Linked DNA regions of Homo sapiens. The protein of the gene in region 1 purifies or fractionates together with the protein of each later gene. This does not show direct contact. Each region holds a gene or a part of one and is shown in the gene's direction. Other genes may lie near its edges.

Region 1 (5,198 bases):
AAGTTAGCCGGGCGTGGCGGCGGGCGCCTGTAATCCCAGCTACTAGGGAGGCTGAGACAGGAGAATTGCTTGAACCCGGGACACGGATGTTGCAGTGAGCCGAGATCGCGCCACTGCACTCCAGCCTGGGCAACAGAGCGAGACTCCGTCTCCAAAAAAAAAAAAAAGTGTCAGAGGATGTTCTAAGGAAATTGTATTCGGACCAGAAAAGAGATGGGACAGTATTTACTTCGTGAATGTCAGGCATAAGCAATTCCTTTTTTCATAGACTCGTTTTATAAAGATGAGTAGTGTGAGTTCATTTAACACCTTGGTTTTACCAGTTTATTTCTTCTTCACACATTTTAAAATGTTTGTTTATGTTTATTAAATAGTGACGGTAAATCAGTAATGATATAGAGCTTTTTGCCTTATTGTACAAATCATTTTATCACCTTATTTTAATTTCATTGAAAGCAGCAAACCAAATCCCAACCAAATATCCACTAGTAATGGGAAGCCTGGTGCTGTGAATGGAGCTGTGGGGACCACGTTCCAGCCTCAGAATCCTCTCTTAGGGAGAGCCTGTGAGAGCTGCTATGGTAAGTTTTCTCTAGCAGGTCAGTTAAGCATCGGGAACTGTTCTGGCTCATGGGGTGTGAGCGTCTGGGAAGTGCCTGAGGTCAGTACGGTGCACCTTGGAAGGCACAAGCATGTCTCCTCTAAATGAGTAGATGCCCCTCCTTACCTTCTGCCTGGAACAGAGGGACTGTTTATTGAATCCTTATTACGTACCACACACTCAAGTTAGGCATTGGATTTCCCTTGATGTACTCTTGTGGTTTGTTGATTATTTCATAGCAGTGTTTGCTGAGTTGTGTTTAGAGTCATATTAGCTTTGCAGAAACTGTGTTCCCATGATGCATACCAAATTCCCCTTTGGAGTTTCTCAGTATACTTTGACAAATTAAAGCTCCAAGTAATTCTGTAGGAAAGGCCTCTGTGTGGATAAGCTGCTGTATATAATCCTCAGACCATGTTCCCTCAGTGCACCAGTTTGGGAAATGCTCTTCTATGATACTTGCTTTTGGCCTCAGGATCCCACTGTATTTATCTATGGTGGCAGTATTTTATTTGCCCAGGGTGTTAAATGGGGTCGGTGAAGTGAACCGTTAGGTAGTTGATAGACTTTGTGTGTTTATTTTAAATCTCAAGCAAGGATACAATATCTTAATGGGGCATTGGTGATATTATCATCTATGTTTCCTTCCAGTTAAGGTAGCCTGGGATGGGAGAGGGAAGGAAACGAATGTTTATTGAAAACCTACTTGGTGCCCCATTTTGGGTTCTTAGTAGCTCTTTGAGAGTACATGTAGCCTACTGCCTTCAGGAAGGATATAGGAATGAGGGACGGCTGTGAGTACGATTACGTCGATTGATCCCAAGGAAGGTGTGAGCCAAGTTGCTGAATTTGTAGAAATGGTACATGGGGATGTGTTTAACCATTTTTTTGCAGCATGGGAGCACAAAGGGAAACAATTTGTGGAAAATTAAGATTTTTTAGGTCAGGCTTTTACATGGATAGCATCATAAATACCTTGAATTGGGAATTCTTGGATTTTGTAGTTCATGTATATTCAAATGAAAATGAAAAGAATCCTGCAGACAAGTGGTAGTGGCTTAACCTGTCTTGATTTTAACTTGCAGGCAGGGTGCTGTGGCTCATGCCTGTAATCCCAGCACTTTGGGAGGCTGAGGCGGGTGAATCACCTGAGGTCAGGAGTTCGAGACCAGCCTGGCCAACATGGTGAAACCCCGTCTCTACTAAAAATACCAAAAATTAGCCAGGCATGGTGGCATGCACCTGTAATCCCAGCTACTCAGGAGGCTGAGGCAGGAGAATAGCTTGAACCCAGGAGGCAGAGGTTGCAGTGAGCTGAGATTGCACCATTGCACTCCAACCTGGGTGACAGAGTGAAACATCGTCTCCCCCCCGCCCCCAAAAAAAAAATTAACTTGCAAACCCCTTTCACACTCACGTATATCCCCTTAAATGATTATTCTGTTATTTTTATGTGTGCATGATGAATAAGCTATTTTTATTTTATAATATTTACTTTAGACTCATGTATTACTAATCTCCATGATAAAATGTTATCTTAATATAAGATTTATCCTTACAGAGAGATAGAACTTGATGTTTTCTATTTATTAAATGATACCTACTTTCCAATTGAATTTGAGTTATTTAAGGAGAAAGGCATTTATTGACAATTATTAAAATGATTTGCATGATTAGTTTACGTAAAATGTATGTTTTAAGTGAAATTTTATATTTAGAATTCAAAATAGATTCATAGCTTAATGTTTAAGATTTTGAAGGGGAACATCACATCTGGGGACTGCTGTGGGGTGGGGGGAGCAGGGAGGGATAGCTTTAGGAGATATACCTAATGCTAAATGACGAGTTAATGGGTGCAGCACCCCAGCATGGCACATGTATACATATGTAACTAACCTGCACATTGTGCACATGTACCCTAAAACTTAAGGTATAATAATAATAAAATAAAAAATTTAAAAAATGACTTATTAGTTCTAAATTATAGGAGGAAAGGCTTTTAGGCTTTCATTTGTATAAAATAGTTATTTGTATAAATGAAAGCCTAAAATAGGCCTAAAATATTTACACAAATAAAAGCCTAAAATAATAATCCTCCAAAAATAATACATGATGGGTGTACAGTGTTATTCCCGATAAACATGAATATAATGGTCTCTGTATTTTCTCTTTTTCACATTGGTTTGTGAAGTGTTAGTTGATATCTTCATGTGCTGTTTGAACATTTGAAGGTAACTTACAGGTCAGAGAAATAATATTTTAAGGCAAACTTACAGAATTACAATTTTTTATGCACCCAATTAACTTATGTCTCAACCTCAATGTTTTCTCTTAAACTTCAGATCTATCACACATGTATTTTAAATGTCACATGTCAGTAATTTAAACTACAAAACAAAAACTAACACAAGCTTACAGTGTTCAGCTAGCTGTTAAATCATCTGAGTTTTAGGCCTCAAGCATGCTGTGATGTCAGCTGCCCATGCTCACTTCATATGGATTTAGAGTCTTGAAAGGGATTCTGTCTGTAAATGGAGATTTTAAAATAAGGATTTTACTTATTGATTAAAATAAAGGAGTGCAAAACAGATACCTGTTTGTTTCTTCTCTCCTCCCCTACTCCCTCCCTCTTCCCCTCCCCAGCCCCCTCCTCCTCCCCGCTTCCCTCTGTAACCCAGGCTGGAATGCAGTGGTGCAATCACAGTGGCCTCAACCTCCCAGGCTCAAGCAGTCCTGCTGCCTCAGTCTCTGTAGTCGCTGGGACTACAGGGGTTCACCACCACACCTGGCTGACAGATACCTGTTTTTATTAGATTCCTGACTTTATCAATGAGACCTCCCTGAGTACCTTAAATAATCCTTGGAGTGGTGTCTGAACCCTGGGTTTGGAAACGTGGATTTAGATTTTTTTTTTTTTTCTTTTGAGATGGAGCCTCACTCTGTCGCCCAGGCTGGAGTGCAGTGGCGTGATCTCAGCTCACTGTAACCTCTGCCTCCCACATTCAAGCAATTCTACTGCCTCAGCCTACCGAGTAGCTAGGACTACAGGTGCGTGCCACCATGCCTGGCTAATTTTTTTTGTGTGTTTTCAGTAGAGACGGGGTTTCACCGTGTTAGCCAGGATGGTCTTGATCTCCTGACCTCATGGTCCGCCTGCCTCAACCTCCCAAAGTGCTGGGATTACAGGCGTGAGCCACCATGTCCGGCCCCAGATTTTTTAAATACTACCATCTTTTTGAGAACCTATTTCCAGAAACATACACAATAGAGTATTTTTAATCAACAAAACAAAAACTCCCTCAGCAGCACAATGCATAATACAGGATGCTTCACTGAATAGCTTTAACAGGGCCACAAGCACTTTATATAATAATGGAAATAAGTTGGTTTAATGAATTCTGAGTATTAAAAAAACAAATATACTATTATGTTTGGCTTGTAAGCTGGGAACAATAACATTGTAAACTAAGCATGACAAGTATTTTTAAAATGTTTGATTATTTTGTGTTGATGTTACAAATTAAATAGCATTTTTCGTTTTTTCTTATTTTTCTTCTGCTTTAGCTACACAGTCTCACCAGTGGTATTCTTGGGGCCCACCTAATATGCAGTGTAGATTATGTGCAATTTGTTGGCTTTATTGGAAAAAATATGGAGGCTTGAAAATGCCCACCCAGTCAGAAGAAGAGAAGTTATCTCCTAGCCCAACTACAGAGGTACAGTAGTCTTTTTAGTGTTGAAAAATGGCATGTTTTTAAATGGGTTGATTATTCCTTGGAAACAGAAGTACAGTATAGGATAATTAAAAAATGAAGAAAGCTACCTTTATAGCTAAACGTAGCACTACAATATTCAGGGTAGGTGTGGAGAGAAGCAGAGAGAAATTAAATTTTATCAGGTATTCAGAATAATGGTCTCAGACAAAAAAACAATGAGTGTGGGAGATGTTAGCATAAGTAGAGAGCTTACAAATTAAATGTTTAATTGCTTTTGAAAACAGTTCGTAACCTTTACATTCTGTTGAAGGCGTGTCTTACTACATAAAGTCATAAATGCAAATTAAGCATTTTTTCTCCCCGTGGCTGTTTTGGAGGGACAAGAAGTATGGACTTAATCTTGAGGTGAACAACAGTTTAAATGTGATTTTGGTAAAATCCTCATAGGCTGAAGATGCCAAACGCCTGTGTTTACCAGTGGGCGACTACCCTTTTTCAGTGCTGACGGGCTTTCAGGACTCCTTAATTTAAAAAAAAGTGTAGTTAACCCCCTTGGCAGTTTCATACCACTTACTGTGAATGTGATTTTGGATTCCTGTATAGCAGTACAGTATTCTCCACAGTTCCCTTCTCTACTCCCCACCTCTTTCCCAAAAGTGCACACTTTAATTCTCTCTTTTAGAGGTAGTGCACCAAGTGACGTTATAGATGCTTCATGAAAGATTTAAAAGTTGCACTTTTCTTTTGAGCATGATGCAAACAGTAACGTGTTTGGGCAAGTTCACTTCCTTGAGTGTTTGTTGTTTTCTGATTTTGCAGGACCCTCGTGTTAGAAGTCACGTGTCCCGCCAGGCCATGCAGGGAATGCCAGTCCGAAACAC
Region 2 (5,198 bases), on another chromosome or scaffold:
GATGTCAATATGTTAACTGAGTGGAGAATAGGGTCAAAAAATTTGCTTAATTGTTGGAAGAAATGATAACGATAAAAATACAGGTATTTTTGTTACTTGAGAGAATATGTATATGAATGCTGTCTTTTTTTTTTTTAAACACATGCTAGAATAAAACCTTAGATTTTTGAAAAGTCTGGATTCAACTGGTGGAACTTAGACACTAGCTTGTATTTTTTCATCCATTACAAATTCAGAAGTGCTTGAAAAGGGTAGAGTGTTCACAAGTGTAGAAATGCAACAGATAGCATGTTAGAATATCAACGTTGTCTACTTTTGACAGTTCCTTTGAACTATTTAAAAAAATATTTCACTTGTCCTCAGAATCAAGACTGCTTTGACAATTTTGCATCCAAATTAAAATTTGTAATACTTGTGGTTGTAGAAGGTAAAAGCTGTGGCTACTTAAATCTTGGTCTACTATACAGAGTAATTAAGTTTAGTCTAATTTTTTTAAGGTTTTCTCTTTGAGTTTGGGATGCTGTAAACTACCTGAAACAGTTTATTCCTATCTCATTTCATGAAGCATAGACATGTTTCAGGAATGAATCCCTTTTGTTAGTCACAAATCCTAGCTATAACTCTCATCACCTGTGTAAAACAGTGGTGAAAGTGCATTTATTAGGTAACTCGTATATGTACCTTGATGTTGGGTGAGAATTTCTTAAGAAAAGTTTTGGTTTGAGTAAGAAATAATAAGTTCAGAAGCCGAATAAATAAAAGGTTTAGTTTGGAGTAAATGTAATGTGTCACATTTCCCAGTGTTGTAGTGCTTGTCACTTCTTAGGTGCTCTATAAATGTTTGGTTAAAAGAAATGTAGTTAAGTTGAAAGTCTGAGATTAAAATGTTTTTTTTCTTCCTTTCGTTTCCTTTTTTTTTTTAAGTAGTCTGTTTAAAAAAATGAAAGTATGTTGGAAACTTTAGCCTTAAAAGTTTCTTGGTAATACTAGCCAAATGCAAATTTTTTGGTATCTTTTTAGAAATACTAATTTTAAGTGCTCAGCATTACATTCTACTGCATTTTTTAAAAAGGTGCTTTTAACGTTAAAAGGAAAAAGTTACTAAAATAAATTTCTAACTTCATACAAGTACTTCCTGTTATTATAAGTATAGCAAATCTCAGAGAATTTGCTAGTAATTATTAGTACTAAAAACTTAGCTTATTTCTTACAACTTTATTTCTTATGTGATAAAAGATGAGAAGCTTCTTGTAATTTGTATTTTGCTTTAGCAAAAATTGCAATTCAGAATCTATTTAATGTTGAGTGTATTAGGCCTAAATTTTGTTTCTTTTTCTGTGTGTTCCCAATTTCTTTCGTTCTTTTTTATTTTTCTTTTTGATATAGAGTCTCACTATTTCACCCTGGCTGGCACGATCTGTAACTGCTGCCTCCTGGGCTCAAATAATCCTCCCACCTCAGCCTCCTGAGTAGCTGGGACTACAGGCACACCTGGCTAATTTTTGTAGTTTTTGTAGAGATGAGGTTTTGCCGTGTTGCCCAGGCTGGTGTCGAACTTCTGGGCTCAGGTGACTCTCCCGCCTTAGCCTCCCAAAGTGCTGGGATTACAGGCGAGAGTCACCGTGCCTGGTGTAATTTCTGTATTACGATGATCATTGAGCTACAGAAGGTTTTATGCCATTTATTGGATCTTACCAAACATATTTGTACTTGGGAGCAAGCTTTTAAGTTTGAATTGTCTGTTGTATTAACGACAACAAATCTTTAAATTTTATTAAGTGACAGTTTATTGAGGTGATTGAAAGTTAGATTATGTAGTAATACTTTTTAGGTGTTGTTTTAAAGTTGAAGTGTTGTATGTTTTAGCAGTTTTCCCATGTACTACCTTTAAGAATTTATGTAAACAAATACATTCCCATTACTGTCTAATATATGCTATGTTACTTTTTTCACAGTATGTTTTTGAGGAATATGATTCGTAATACATAAGGAATTTGTGCTGTAACATAGATCGTGATGTTGGTGTTATGTTGAATTTATTTTTCATGCTCTTGATAGACTTTTAAAAATCAGTGGTGCCGGCTGGGCATGGTGGCTCACGCCTGTAATCACAGCACTTTGGGAGGCCGAGGTAGGAGGATCACCTGAGGTCAAGGGAGTTTGAGACCAGCCTGGCCAGCGTAGTAAAACCCTGTCTCTTCTAAAAATACAAAATTAGCTGGGCATGGTGGCACACACCTGTAATCCCAGCTATTCGGAAGGCTGAGGCAGGAGAACTGCTTGAACCCAGGAGGCGGAGGTTGCAGTGAGCTGAGGTTGCGCCACTGAACTCCAGCCTCGGCGAAAAAAGTGAAACTCTCTCTCTCAAAAAAAAAAAAACTAAATAAAATAAAATAAAAATCAGCAGTACCACATTATAAGGAGGTGGTAGATTATTAAAGTTTGTAAATAATTCCAAGACTTATTTTTATTATGTCAGGTTGATTTTTACTTTTTTTTTTTAAGACGGACTTTTGCTCTTGTTGCCCAGGCCGGAGTGCAGTGGTGCGATCTCGGCTCACTGCAACCTCTGCCTCCCAGGTTCAAGCAGTTCTCCTGCCTCAGCCTCCTGAGTAACTGGAATTATAGGCATGCACCATCATGCCGGGCTAATTTTGTGCTTTTAGTAGAGACAAGGTTTCTCCATATTGGTCAGGCTGGTCTCGAACTCCTGACCTCAGGTGATCTGCCCGCCTCGGCCTCCCAAAGTGCTGGGATTACAGGCGTGAGCCACTGCGCCCGGCCGATTTTTACTTTTTTTAAACTCAAACTTTTTTTTCCTGTATCTATATTGTACATGTTATTAACGTCTTTTATTACGTAGCAGTAAATTTTCAATTAAAATGGGCTGGTTGGGCTGGATATACCAGAATCTTTAGAGGAGGAATGATTTAGATGATTATACTTTGGCGGGCATGGTGGCTCATGCTTGTAATCCCAGTACTTTGGGAGGCTGAGGTGGGTGGATTACTTGAGGTTGGGAGTTCAAGACCAGCCTGGCCAAAGTGATGAAAACCCCGTCTCTACTAAAAGTATAAAAAAATTAGCTGGGCATGGTGGCGCATGCCTGTATTCCCAGCTACTCAGGAGACTGAGGTAGGATCGCTTGAACCTAGGAGGTGGAGGTTGCAGTGAGTCGAGATGGCACCACTGCACTCCAGCTTGGGTGACAGGGAGACCCCATTTCAGGAAAAAAAAAAAAAAAAAGGTGGTTATATTTAGAATCCACGTAGATTGAATTTTCCAGATGTACTTTTCTTTCTTCAACAATGATTGGCTTAGGCCACATGAAAAAATAATGGATTGATTACAAATTCCCTTTTTTAATGCCCTGTGTGTGTGTACATGTTCTCTCTCTCTCTCCCCCTACCTCTACCTTTGTTTGTCTCCCTATCCACTCTGTCAGTTCGTTCCCCCCTCTCTGTTCTTTTCCTTCCCCCTCTTCCTTCTGTCTCACCCCTTTCATAAGTCATTCATTTAACAACAACCCGTTTCATATATCAGGTAATATAGAATGAAGGTGGGTGAGGCATCTGACCTGCTTTCAGGGAGCCCACAGTGTAGCAGAAGATGCAGATAAATAAAGCAAAACTCCTAGCATATCTATTTATGAGTATTCCAACATAAAATAATTGTAGGAAATGCTATGAGAGGACAGAAGAGGACAGCTAAATCAGAGAGCTATGGAAAGTTTTCTGGTGGAGTTGACATCTAAGCTGAGTGCGAAGGCTTTTGCTAGGCAAAGAAGGGAAGAAAAGTTTTTCAGATAGAGGATAACGTACTGGAAAATGAACGAAACAAGGTGAAGTATCTGGAAACTGTAAGTAATTTGGTGTGACTGAATTAACTTAAAGCATGATATGTTTGGGTAGGAATAAAAGGGCAGTGGTGGGAGATGAAGCTGAGTGAGGGAGTCGAAAATTTTCTTGGCCAGGCATGGTGTCTCACACCTGTAATCCCAGCACTTTGGGAGGTTGAGGCAGGTGGATCACCTGAGTTCTATACCAGCCTGGCCAACATGGTGAAACCCTGTTTCTACTAAAAATACAAAATTAGCAGGGCATGGTGGTGTGAGCCTGTAATGCCAGCTATTAGGGAGGCTGAGGCAGAAGAATAGCTTGAACACGGGAGGTGGAGGTTACAGTGAGCCGAGATCATGCCATTGCACTCCAGCCTGGGTGACAAGAGCAATACTCTGTCTCAAAAAAAAAAAAATTTTTTCTTGAAAACTACATGGAACCATTGAAAGTTGTTGAGAATTGCTTGAACCCAGGAGCTGGAGGTTGCGGTGAGCTGAGATCAGGCCACTGCAAAAACAAGGGGAGAGCTGAATGTAAGGATGGAAATTCCAGGTAAGAAGTCCAAGTGGAAAATGAATAAGGGCCTGAACTAATGCATTGGAAGTGGAGCAGAGAGGATAGATCTGAGCCTTTTTGAAGTAGAATTCAGGGCCGGGCACAGTGGCTCACACCTGTAATCCCAGCACTTTGGGAGGCTGAGGTGGGTGGATCATGAGGTCAGGAGATTGAGACCATCCTGGCTAACACAGTGAAACCCCGTCTCTACTAAAAAAATACAAAAAATAGAAATTAGCCAGGCTTGGTAGCGGGCGCCTGTAGGACGCTGAGGCAGGAGAATGGTGCGAACCTGGGAGGCGGAGCTTGCAGTGAGCCGAGATCACGCCACTGCACTCCAGCCTGGGCGACAGAGCAAGAGTCTGTCTTAAAAGAAGTAGAATTCAGGACCTAGTAACTCATCCTGGGGTAGGAAGAAGATGGAGGTTTTTTTCTTAGGAAATTAGATAGATGTTACTGTCATTTGAAGCATGCTGTCATTGGACCTGCTAGTTAAGATGTAAGAGTAAGTAGGTAGGATGAAGTCAGAGGCTTGGTTAATCTGGTGTGAATGTTAACCTCATATCTATGATATTTGAAGGGATTTAAGATCCATAACATGGCAAATTTTGTGCTATAAATTTGTGGTCCTTTAGATGAATAGGTAATCTTGTAAAATACTAACATGTTTTCTGTCCAAATTGCTAAATCTTTGTTTATTGTAATTAAAAAAAATACTAGGTGAGTACCTATGTCACTGAAGAATGTTTTTGCCAAGTCAGCCAGTGAATTCAGTCATTGAACACATTGTGTACTTTCCTTGTA
Region 3 (5,198 bases), about 190 Mb from region 1:
CATTTTTGTTTCTTTTCTTCAGGATTGAGAATTTGGGGTGGAAGACTAATAAAGGAAAGAAACGAAGGAGAGATCCAGGTATTTAGTGTCAAATTTTATTGCCAAATAACCTTGCTGTGGAGGAGTATTCATATGAATAAAGGTGTGGGTATGCCCAACCTCTGAGCTTACGCAGAGGCCACCACGGGGCACTTTTTCTCATGATTATACTCTTTCTGTTTTTAAGGATTTAGAAGCATTTCTTCTGTAGCTTGTCAAGTGCAAGGAGTCACTGTGTAATATTTGGCCTTTTTCATCACCCTGTGTTTCCTGTGTCACAGGCTGAGGGGCTCTGATAATACATGTGCAGAGGCTGGGCCAGTTGGGTAACCCTCCCCAAGGTCACGTGCCAGCCCAGCGAGGCACTCACTTTGTTTGGGTCCTTACAGAAAATACCAAATCCAGTTCCTTCTAGGGAAGAAGAATGTCTCTCTTCCTGTTTTGAAAGGGGAGGAAGAGAGATGAGGAGAGGTGCAGCCTGGAGGATCACACATCTTTCCTTCTGCATTTTTCTACCTTCGGAAGACCCTGGCTTCCCTGCCTAGTTGATCCGAGGGTGTTGTCGCTCTGAGACCCGTTATTTTAGTGGAAGGTGCTGTTGGCCTTTCTACGGGGGCATCCAGGAGCCCTTTTGCCACAGTGGCTTTTGCCAGGTTATCTGGTATTCAGTTAATCACTGCCTCTCAGATGCCACATGGTTCCTCTCTGTGGTCACAGGTCAAGGAACCTGTATGAAAGAATGAAAAACATCAAGATCAATGTGACGATATTAACAGCAAATTTGAAATCAAATCTTCTTGATTAATTATTCTAGTCATAAAAATGTTAAAAGTACATACAACTACATAAATGAGCTGATTCCTCTCTGCAAAGATGGTCACTAATGCTATTTTAGTACAATGTGATTCCCTATAATACATATCTTTATAAATGCATTTTTTTCTCCCTCACTTTTCCGGTTAATACATCTGGCAAACTCTTCTCTTCATCAACTGTTGTATAATTATAAAATTATATAATTATTTAAAAAATCATGTTTTTTTAACTGCTCTCCTGTTGATAGGCAATTAGCTATTTGTGGCTTCCTTTATTAATAAATAAGGGTCAGCACACTTTTTCCACAAAGGGCCGGATGATACATATTTTAGGCTTTGCTGGCTCTATGGTCTCTGTTGTAACTACTCAGCTCTGTGTTGCAGGAGGAAAGTGGCCGAAAATAATATGTAAATGAGTGTACGTGGCAGTGTTCCAATAAAACTTTATTTATAAAGCCTCTGTTAGAAATGGTTTTCAGAGAAAATCCCGGTCCTTGTCTCTTCCCAATACTGATAGTCCCCCTTTTCGATAAATGCTGAGAAGTGGGATTATCGGGTTAAAGTATATATACTCTTTGAATTATGCATAATACAGATGTCCACTCATTAGACCAGTGCTTAATATGGTCCTGGTAGCAAAAAGTTTTCATTTAAAGATTTATTTAAGGTTTTTGCTTAAAATGTAGGAGGAACCCTACCTGGGTCTCCAGAATCTTCAGACCCTTTCTTGGGATTAGGAAACTGGGCGTAGCCTGAGATTTCAGCGGGGACATCTCTGACTTCACTGTAATTGCTATTGGTGACAGTGTCCAGATCCGCCTTCACCTTTTCCCAGACGACTTGGTGCTCCTGCCGCCCTGGAGGCTGGGGGAGGCTGTGGGCCCTGGCAGGCCGGGTGTTGACCTGTGCTGGGTTGGTTATAACACAATGCCTGGGTTCTGTTTGTAGCTACCAGAGCTACCACATAGTTTGGGGTTGGTGTAGATCGTCTGCTTCTCTGTGATTCTCAAACCAGGTTCTGCCTCAGACACAGCCACAAAACAACCCTGTAAACTCCACCTTACGTGACGGTTTCACTGGAAGCAAAGGTTCTGATATTCTGGAAGTGGGCTTCAGTTACCCTGTAGTGCTCCTGGGTAGCCCCAAGTCCTCTGAACCCTCAGAGTTGACACCTGAGGACCATCCCTAACGGTATAGGCCTCGCCACCTTCTCACGCCCTGTTTTTATAAGGCTGGGTGGTTCCTAAAATATTAATATTTCAGCCAATCTGGTATCCTGAATGCTTGAATTTCATTACTGAGAACCCACCGATGCCATGCTCTGGGATTATTCGTGGGGCCTGCTATAGAGCAGGCTCTGGAGAGCTGAAGCAGGCCTGACCAGGAGTGTGGCCGCCCGACCACCTCTGCCCACCAGGTATGAGCTCCTGGTCAGGACAAGCAGCTGCCTCTGTGCGTTAGCTTGGGCTTAAACTGGCTCCTCCCCGCCTTAAATACTCCAGCATATTCTTTAAAGATCACAGGAAGTTGCCCAGGGGCCACTTGCCTATTTCTCTGTTCTCGCTGATGACCTCAGGACAATTTTGTTCTGTTTCAATTTGGCTTTTTGTTTGCCCCAGTCCCTGTCATCCCTGGGCCACTGTTAGGAGGTGTGAGCTTATCTGCTCGTGCCTGGGCCCCTGACTTTCCCTGCTCCTTCCAAGTGGCTTTTTAAGTAGCAGCCCCCGCTGCAACCCAGGGGAGCCTCAGCTCCTTCCTACGCTCTTGAGGCCTCTTATAAAGTGGACATGCAGGGAGAAGAGAAGCCTTGTGGCAGGCTCTTGCTGTCTCCTGTGTTAACAGAAGGATTGCAGTTTTATTATTTTGCGGTGACTTTGAAATGTGCTGTCACTCAAACAACCATGTTTTTATTGGCTTCTGCACTTGGAGGACTCCTCCATGAAGCCCGCGGACAGGACAGATGGCTCCGTGCAAGCTGCAGCCTGGGGTCCTGAGCTTCCCTCGCACCGCACAGTCCTGGGAGCCGGTGAGTGTTGCCTTCGTCAGAGAACTGAAGTCAGGAGGGACCAGGTCTGACGCACCTGTTACAACAGCTTAAAGCCTAGATTCCTCAGTAGTGAAGTTTTTATTTTTTCTAAGGTATATCTTAAAAACTAAAATCATGTTAAAGTACCCTGTTGATTCCTTCTGAGCTCTGCCTTGCCCACAGTTACATCCGGTGCCTGACATATGAATGGTACTCAGGTGTTTTTTGAGTAAATAAACATGCCCCTCCATGTGAAAAGTTAATATCCAGATTTAGTAAGACTTAAGATTTGCCCCTACAGGGTGGTGTTGTGAACCCTCACTTCTATAGGGCAGCTTCCCACTTCGTCCTCCTAGGAGGCTCCTTCCTTTTCCCCAGGCCAGTCTCACTGCCCACCCCCATCCTGTCCTCTTTTCTAGGGAATCTGTCCCTCACCCCTTCCTTCTGTCTTCAGTCTCTGTCCCCTGGATCCATCCGTCGGTATTTAGATGCGCTCAGACTCACGTTAGATACATCAGACCCTTCGTGGCTCTCCCCTGTCCTGGGCCCCTTCCTTGCCACATCCCTTTGCCCAGTTCCCTTTACCACCAGAGTGAAATAACCTGCTCCGTTTGGTGCCATGGATTCCCTACCCCACCAACCCCGTGTGTTCCTCCTCTCCCGACTCCTTTCGGCTCCATCTCTAAAGCCCAACTCTGGGTGAGGTTTCTCACAACCCCATTGCTAAATCCTGTTAGCATTCTTTGGGTTTTATTCTTTGGGTTTTGCGCTCTCCATTGCATTTAAACCTTCCAGAAGTTCTGGCCTGGGCCTCTGTGGCCCCCTGCTCCTCGGCCCCATGCTCCTCCAGTTTTCCTCCTTCTGTCTTCGTCCTTCCAAGCCTGCAGTCTGCTCGCCTCCCGTCCCTGCTGGATGCCCTTTCTAGAGGGTTTGTTTGAGCTGCCTTTGCCCTTCCCCCAGGTGGAGCCATGGCTTCTCTGTGTGCTGACTGTAACCTCCAGCCAGAACTCAACTGGGGGCGTTTTACTGCCCAGCAGCCCCTCTGCTTCAATACTTCATGTCCAGACTTGGCACAGCTAAGACTCAGCCCGACAGACAGGCTCCCCATCTTCTGCTCTGCGCCTCAGTACAGGCCCCTGCCGTCTTCCCTCTAGCGTTAGCCAGAAACCCAGGATCTTCATCTCAGCCTCTGCCTCATTCCTCATGGCCAAGGCATCCCTGTCCTGTGCCTTGTGCTTCGTTAGCTCTCATGTCCCCGCTGAGCACCAGCCTCCAACCCCACCCGGGCTCCCTCCGCCCCACTGACGCCCCTGTGAATGTGGTCAAGCCGCTTCTCTGATGCAACACGTGGCTTCCCATTGCTTTTGGGGTAAAAGGCCAGAACCCAGAATGGGGCCTGAAGTCCTGCCTGACCGCATGGCCTCCTTGCTGCCCCCGGGAAGCCCCTGTGATCCCCAGGCTGGAACAGACCCCCACTCTTATCTGAGCTCTTTAGACCTGGGTTCCTCTGCTTGCGAAACAGTTTTGTCACTAGCCTTTAAACACCTGTCTCTCCTGGACACTGGCCTTCCGCAGCCTCTGTCCCCCTCTGCCCAGTCCCTTTCCTGGCACCTTGCCTACACCAATAGTTAGTGATGGGTGTTGAGTCGCTAAAGGGAAGCTGGTGGTCTTTCAGAGTAGAATTGGAAAGCTCTTCATGAGGATATTTACCTGTGGTGCTATGTGTTTACTGCTATTAATCCAGATTTTAACTATAAATCCTTAGGTCCATGAATTTCCCCAACCGCTTGAAATCACAGGAAATAGTTATTTGATAGATGTACTGCCCAGTATGGCACCCACCAGCCCTCTCTGGATGATATTTAAATTAGTTGAAAGTGAAATAAAATTTAAAATCCATTTCCTCAGCCTTACTGGCCACATCCCAGCTGTTCAGTAGCCCGGTGTGGCTAGTGGCTGGCCTAGGACAGCAGGCAGAGAACTTTCCATGGTCACCGGAAGTTCTGTCGAGCAGTGCTGGGCTTGAGCGTCTCAACTTCCAGGCTCAGAGGCCATGGAAAGCTGGAGGTGGTGCAGAATCTGCCTTTCCTCACTCCATGGCCCCAGGCAGTTTCCCATTCTAGGGGTTCTCTGGGTTACTAAGAACCACGGGCAGCCGTAGATGGCTCCAGTGGGTGCACCCTTGAAGCAATGGGGATTTTTACTGTACAACTTACTCGAAGTGATGCCAAAACCATCCTTGAGAGGAAAATGCACTCCTTCCTGAAAATCCTGATTGAGATTTACTTGTTTGACTTTTAGATTCAAAAAGCGGTGAG
Region 4 (5,198 bases), on another chromosome or scaffold:
TAATGACTTTATTTTTTGAGAGTCGCTCTGTTGCCCAGGCTGGAGGCTGGAGGCTGGAGTGCAGTGGCATGATCACAGCTCACTGCAATCTCCACCTTCCAGGTTCAAGGAATTTTCCTGCCTCAGGCTCCTGAGCAGCTGAGATTATAGGCATGAGCCACCATGCCCGGCTATTTTTTTTGTATTTTTAGTAGAGACAGGGTTTCTCCAGGTTGGCCAGACTGGTCTCGAACTCTTGACCTCAAGTGATCCACCTGCCTCGGCCTCCCAAAGTGCTGGGATTACAGGCGTGAGCCACCGCGCCTGGCCTAACTAACCACTTTAAAGGCCCTATCTCCAAGTATTAATACAGTCCCATTCTGAGGTGCTGAGAGTTGGGACTTCAGGATGTAAATTTGGGGGAGACACAGGTCAGCCTGTAACATGCCGCAAGTGAGGGCTGCTGGCTGGAGAAGGAAGGCAGCGGGTCCCTCAGCTACTATTTGGGAAGCTCAGGATGATGGAGCGTGGTCGCTCTACTCCAGAGACCCCATTTAGGGTGGTGACCCTGAGGGTTGCAGATGGCTCTCTATTATAGCACCTTCAGGGCAGGGAGGGAAGAGAGCGGGGTGCTTCAAAGGATGGATGTTGGCTTAGATCTAGATTTCATTCTCACTTCTAGCACTCAGTGCAAGACTCAAAACCTCTCTAAGCGTTGGTTTTCTTATCTGTAAAAGGGGGATAGTAATAGTGCCTATGTCTCAGGATTTGTGGTAACTAATTGAAATTATTTGTGTGAAGTGCTTAGCACTGGCAAGAGAAGGTGCCCTCTAAATGATAACCCCACCGCCACCAGCACACTACAACTGTCACATGCCTTTTGCCTTCACAGGTCAGTTCAGAGCTAGTTTTATTTCTTCTGAGAAGGAGCCACTCTCCCACAGTTGGCTTCCTGTGCCTTAACTGCGTCGTCAGCACTCGAGTAGAGATGGCAAAAGCTAGGATTAGGGTGACGGAAGCCCAGAGGTCTGTGTGAACCTGCTTGGTGGGCTCCTGGCATCGATCTGTCCCAGTCCTTGTTCTCGGGTGTCTGATGGGTCAAGAGGGGACCTCAGTATCAGAGCAGACGTTTTGGGGGAGAGGCTCAAGGATCTCTCCCCATGATCCCCTGAGGTCTCAGGGATACTCATGCAGGTCATCATTTTGTCTTGTTCCCTCTCTCTTCTTTGGCAGTTTCTGAACTTCTGGAACAAACAGGACACATTGGAGCTGGAGAGCCCCTCGCTGACATCCACCCCAGTGTGCAGCCAGAAGGTGGTGGTCACCACACCACTGCACCGGGACAAGACACCCCTGCACCAGAAACATGCTGCGTGAGTGCTGCAGTGCCCCCAACCTTCGCCGTCCTCTCCCTCAGCAACACCAGACCATGGGCCTTGGGACCACTGGTGGAACAGTGGGGAGGGGGCACCCTTGGAATAACACTGAAGACTGTTTTAAGAAAGCCCTCTCCTTTCTGGCCACCACGATTTATCATTTTTATCGATATAGTTTTGGGCTCCACCTTTGCTTTTCCTCATTTGTATTTTTTAATTTGATAGTTTCCTTTTTTGTGATCCTCCTGCCTCAGCCTCCTGAGTAGCTGGGACTCCAGGTGCATGCCACCATGCTCAGCTAATTAAAAAAATATTTATTTATTTATTTATTTATTTATTTATTTATTTATTTATTTTGAGATGGAGTCTTGCTCTGTTGCCCAGGCTGGAGTGCAATGGCGCGATCTTGGCTCACTGCAAGCTCCGCCTCCCAGGTTCATGCCATTCTCCTGCCTCAGCCTCCCGAGTAGCTAGGACTACAGGCATCCGCCACCGCGCTCAGCTAATTTTTTGTATTTTTAGTAGAGACAGGATTTCACCGTATTAGCCAGGATGGTGTCGATCTCCTGACCTCGTGATCCTCCTGCCTCAGCCTCCCAAAATGCTGGGATTACAGGCGTGAGCCACCACACCCGGCTAAAATTTTTTTAAGAGGTGAGGTCTTGCTACTTTATCTGGGCTGGTCTTGAACTGGCCTTAAAGTGATCTTCCTGCCACAGCCTCCCAAAACGCTGGGATTACAGGCGTGAGCTACTGCACCTGGCCCTCATTTGATAATTTTCTGTCTCAGGAATGGAGAGTCCAAATTAGCCTGAAAAACATAATCTCTTCCGCTTCCTAAGGTTTCAGGTGCAAATTCGTTGTGTTTGAGCAGCCTTATGTGCAGGGCGAAAGTGCCCATCCCTCTATCAAGAGTGGAGACTGCATTCCTGTCCTCTGAGCTTACGGAGCATGACATTTTCTGTCTGGAAGCCTGTACAGGTTGCTCGCCAGCCTGCTTTTACAATGGAAGTGCTTTTACAATAAGTTTACTTCCTTGGGTCATCATGATTCTAAATTCCAGGTAGAGAGAGTTGCTTAACTATTCCTCTGCTTGATACATTTGCTGGAGGAGGAAATCGCTATTTTGTGATTCAGAAATCAGCTCAGGAATTTTAGCCCTGATAGTGATACATAATTTCGGGAAAAGATTTGTGAATCCCTTAGTCAGAAATCAGTCTCCAAAGTCCGGCTCAGTGGCTCACACTTGTAATCCCAGCGCTTGGGAGGCCAAGGTGGGAGGATCACTTGAGACTAGGGGTTTAAGACCAGTCTGGGCAATATAGGGAGACCCTGTCTGTACACAAAAAAAAAAAAAGTTTTTTTTTTTTTTGAGATGGAGTCTTGCTTTATCACCCAGGCTGGAGTGCAGTGGTGCAATCTCGGCTCACTGCAACCTCCGCCTCCCGGGTTCAAGCAGTTCTCCTGCCTCAGCCTCCTGAGTAGCTGGGATTACAGGCACGCGCCACCACACCCAGCTAATTTTTGTATTTTTAGTAGAAACGAGGTTTCACCGTGTTGGTCAGGCTGGTCTCAAACTCCTGACCTTGTGATCCACTCGCCTCGGCTTCCCAAAGTGCTGGGATTATATGTGTGAGCCACTGCTCCCAGCCAAAAAAAATTTTTTTAATTAGCTGGGCGTGGCCGTGTGTGCCTGTAGTCCCAGCTACTCGGGAGGCTGAAGTGGGAGGATTGCTTGAGCCCAGGAGTTTGAAGCTGCAGTGAGCTATGATTGGCTACTGCACTCCAGCCTAGGTGACAAAGCGTGACTCTCTTTCTAGTTTTTTTTTTTTTTAAAAAAAAAAGAGAAAAAAGAAATCAGTCTCTAAAGAGTTGATCTAAAGCATAACTTAGATAGGTTTCGTGAGAAATGATTGTCCGTTCAAACCAGAATCTTGGACTTCGCATCTAAGCCCTTAAACAGAGATGCTGTCACTACAAAAGGCATTGATACTTCTCTCTCTCCCTTTCTTTCTTATCCATGTGGCCTCATTTGCTGCCTCCTTCCAATTCCTTTTTTCCATAGGAAGAAGCATCTCCAGTGCTCTTCATTCCTCTTTAGATCCATATTTCCATCTGGTTCCTTCTGAAGGCCATCCTTTAACCATGTAGTGTGGGCTTGCTGGTGATGAGTTCTAATTTTTATATTTTTTTGCTAATTTTTCTATTTTTTTGTAGAGATGGGGTTTCGCCATATTGGCCAGGCTGGTCTCGAACTCCTGACTCAAATGGCCTGCCTCGGCCTCCCAAAGTGCTGGGATTACAGGCGTGAGCTGTAATCCAGCTGTTATTCCTTTGTAGAGAGTCTCTTTAGTTATCCCTCAAATTTGACAGGCTGTATGGTGGTGTGGTATTTCTCTATTTTTTTCCCCCCCGGCTTTCATATCAGACTAAAGATTCAAACCTTGAGCTGAGGAAGTGTTTATTTCTTTAGTTTTTCTTTCCCTGTCTGCCCCTTCTCCTACCTTAGGAATTCCTTCATATATAGGCTGGATTGGTCTCTGTGTCTTTTTCGTCTTCATACGCCTCTTCACCATCTTAAGCCATTTCCTTAATCTTCGGAGAACATGATGGGATTGTTTTCTGATTCACCAGTTTGGTTGTCTGTGGTTTCCAACTTGCTGAATTCTCTGATTTACAGAGCTGCATTTTTTATCTCCAAGCAATCTTTTGAATTCCCTTTTCAAGTCAGCCTCCCTGCCTCCCTGAGTTTTCTTTTTGAGACAGTCTTGCTCTGTCCCCAAGGTTGAATACAGTGGTGTGATCATGGCCCACTGCAACTTCTACCTCCCAGGATCAAGTGATCCTCCCACCTCAGCCTTCTAACTAGCTGAGAACACAGGTGTGCACCACCATGCTTGGCTAATTTTTTTGTTTTTTTGAGAGACAGGGTCTCACTGTGTTGCCCAGGCTAGTCTTGAACTCTGGGACTCAAGCAATCCTTCCGCCTCAGCCTCCTAAAGTGCTGGCATTACAGGGGTGAGCCACAAGGCCCGGCCTCTCCCTGAGTTTTCTAATGTGTGTATATACACTCTTTTTTTTCTTTTTTCCGAGACAAGGTCTCTCTTAGTCACCCGGGTTGGAGTGCAGTGGTGCAATCATGGCTCACTGCAGCCTTGAATTCTGGGCTCAAGTGGTCCTCCTACCATAGCCTCTGGAGTAGTTGGGACTACAAGCACCACCATGGCTGGCTGATTTTTTTATTTTTAGTAGTGATGGAGTCTGTGTTACCCAGACTGTTCTTTAACTCCTGGCCTCAAGTGATCCTCTCCTGTCAGCCTAACACTAATCCCAGAGTGTTAGGATTACAGGCGTGAACCACTGCCTTTGGCCATGTGTGTGCTCTTAGTCCTTGTTGATGCCACGAATTAGAGAGGTTCTGGAATTTTCTCATGTTCCTCAGAAACTCCATGTCCCATGGAGATGCTTGAGTGGCTCAGATTCACCTCTGTGAATTGTGGTTTGAACTGTAAGATGTGTACATTTGACTTGTGCTTATCTGTCTTCACTCTTCCTTACAGAGGGGGATCTCTGTGTGTCCCAGATGGGGGATAACAAGGGTTTGGGAAGAGACTGTGGATCCCTGCCTAATCTCTAGGTCCTGAGGAAGGAAGAAAAGAATGGTCTGCATTTGTTCTAGTTTTTTATCTCCCCATGGAGTGGCTGGCCAGCTGCGGGAAGTGGAGGCGGCGAGGCCCCAGGCTGCTGTTTCTAGGAGTTGGCCTCATCACCCAGGTCCCTGGCTACCTGGGGTGTTTCTCTCATCCTCTGAGTGCCCTGGTTATGCCATGAGAGTCAGCCATG

Evidence for each region. Proteins that work in one complex are often made in the same cells at the same time.
Region 2: the proteins of MTA3 (region 1) and ARID4B purify together in Homo sapiens (affinity purification with mass spectrometry, with the first as the bait; one large-scale study listed by BioGRID). This does not show direct contact.
Region 3: the proteins of MTA3 (region 1) and HJURP purify together in Homo sapiens (affinity purification with mass spectrometry, with the first as the bait; one large-scale study listed by BioGRID). This does not show direct contact.
Region 4: the proteins of MTA3 (region 1) and MYBL2 purify together in Homo sapiens (affinity purification with mass spectrometry, with the first as the bait; one large-scale study listed by BioGRID). This does not show direct contact.

What each region holds. Positions count from the first base shown.
Region 1 is NC_000002.12:42,703,738-42,708,935, forward strand, and holds part of MTA3 (metastasis-associated protein MTA3), read left to right. Parts: intron 1-456; coding exon 457-581; intron 582-4,165; coding exon 4,166-4,317; intron 4,318-5,136; coding exon 5,137-5,198. UniProt on the Homo sapiens protein: Acts as a component of the histone deacetylase NuRD complex which participates in the remodeling of chromatin.
Region 2 is NC_000001.11:235,321,089-235,326,286, reverse strand, and holds part of ARID4B (AT-rich interactive domain-containing protein 4B), read left to right. Parts: intron 1-5,198. UniProt on the Homo sapiens protein: Acts as a transcriptional repressor. May function in the assembly and/or enzymatic activity of the Sin3A corepressor complex or in mediating interactions between the complex and other regulatory complexes.
Region 3 is NC_000002.12:233,847,445-233,852,642, reverse strand, and holds part of HJURP (Holliday junction recognition protein), read left to right. Parts: intron 1-21; exon of another isoform or gene 22-22; coding exon 23-78; exon of another isoform or gene 79-2,783; coding exon 2,784-2,880; intron 2,881-5,181; coding exon 5,182-5,198. UniProt on the Homo sapiens protein: Centromeric protein that plays a central role in the incorporation and maintenance of histone H3-like variant CENPA at centromeres.
Region 4 is NC_000020.11:43,704,007-43,709,204, forward strand, and holds part of MYBL2 (myb-related protein B), read left to right. Parts: intron 1-1,212; coding exon 1,213-1,352; intron 1,353-5,198. UniProt on the Homo sapiens protein: Transcription factor involved in the regulation of cell survival, proliferation, and differentiation. Transactivates the expression of the CLU gene.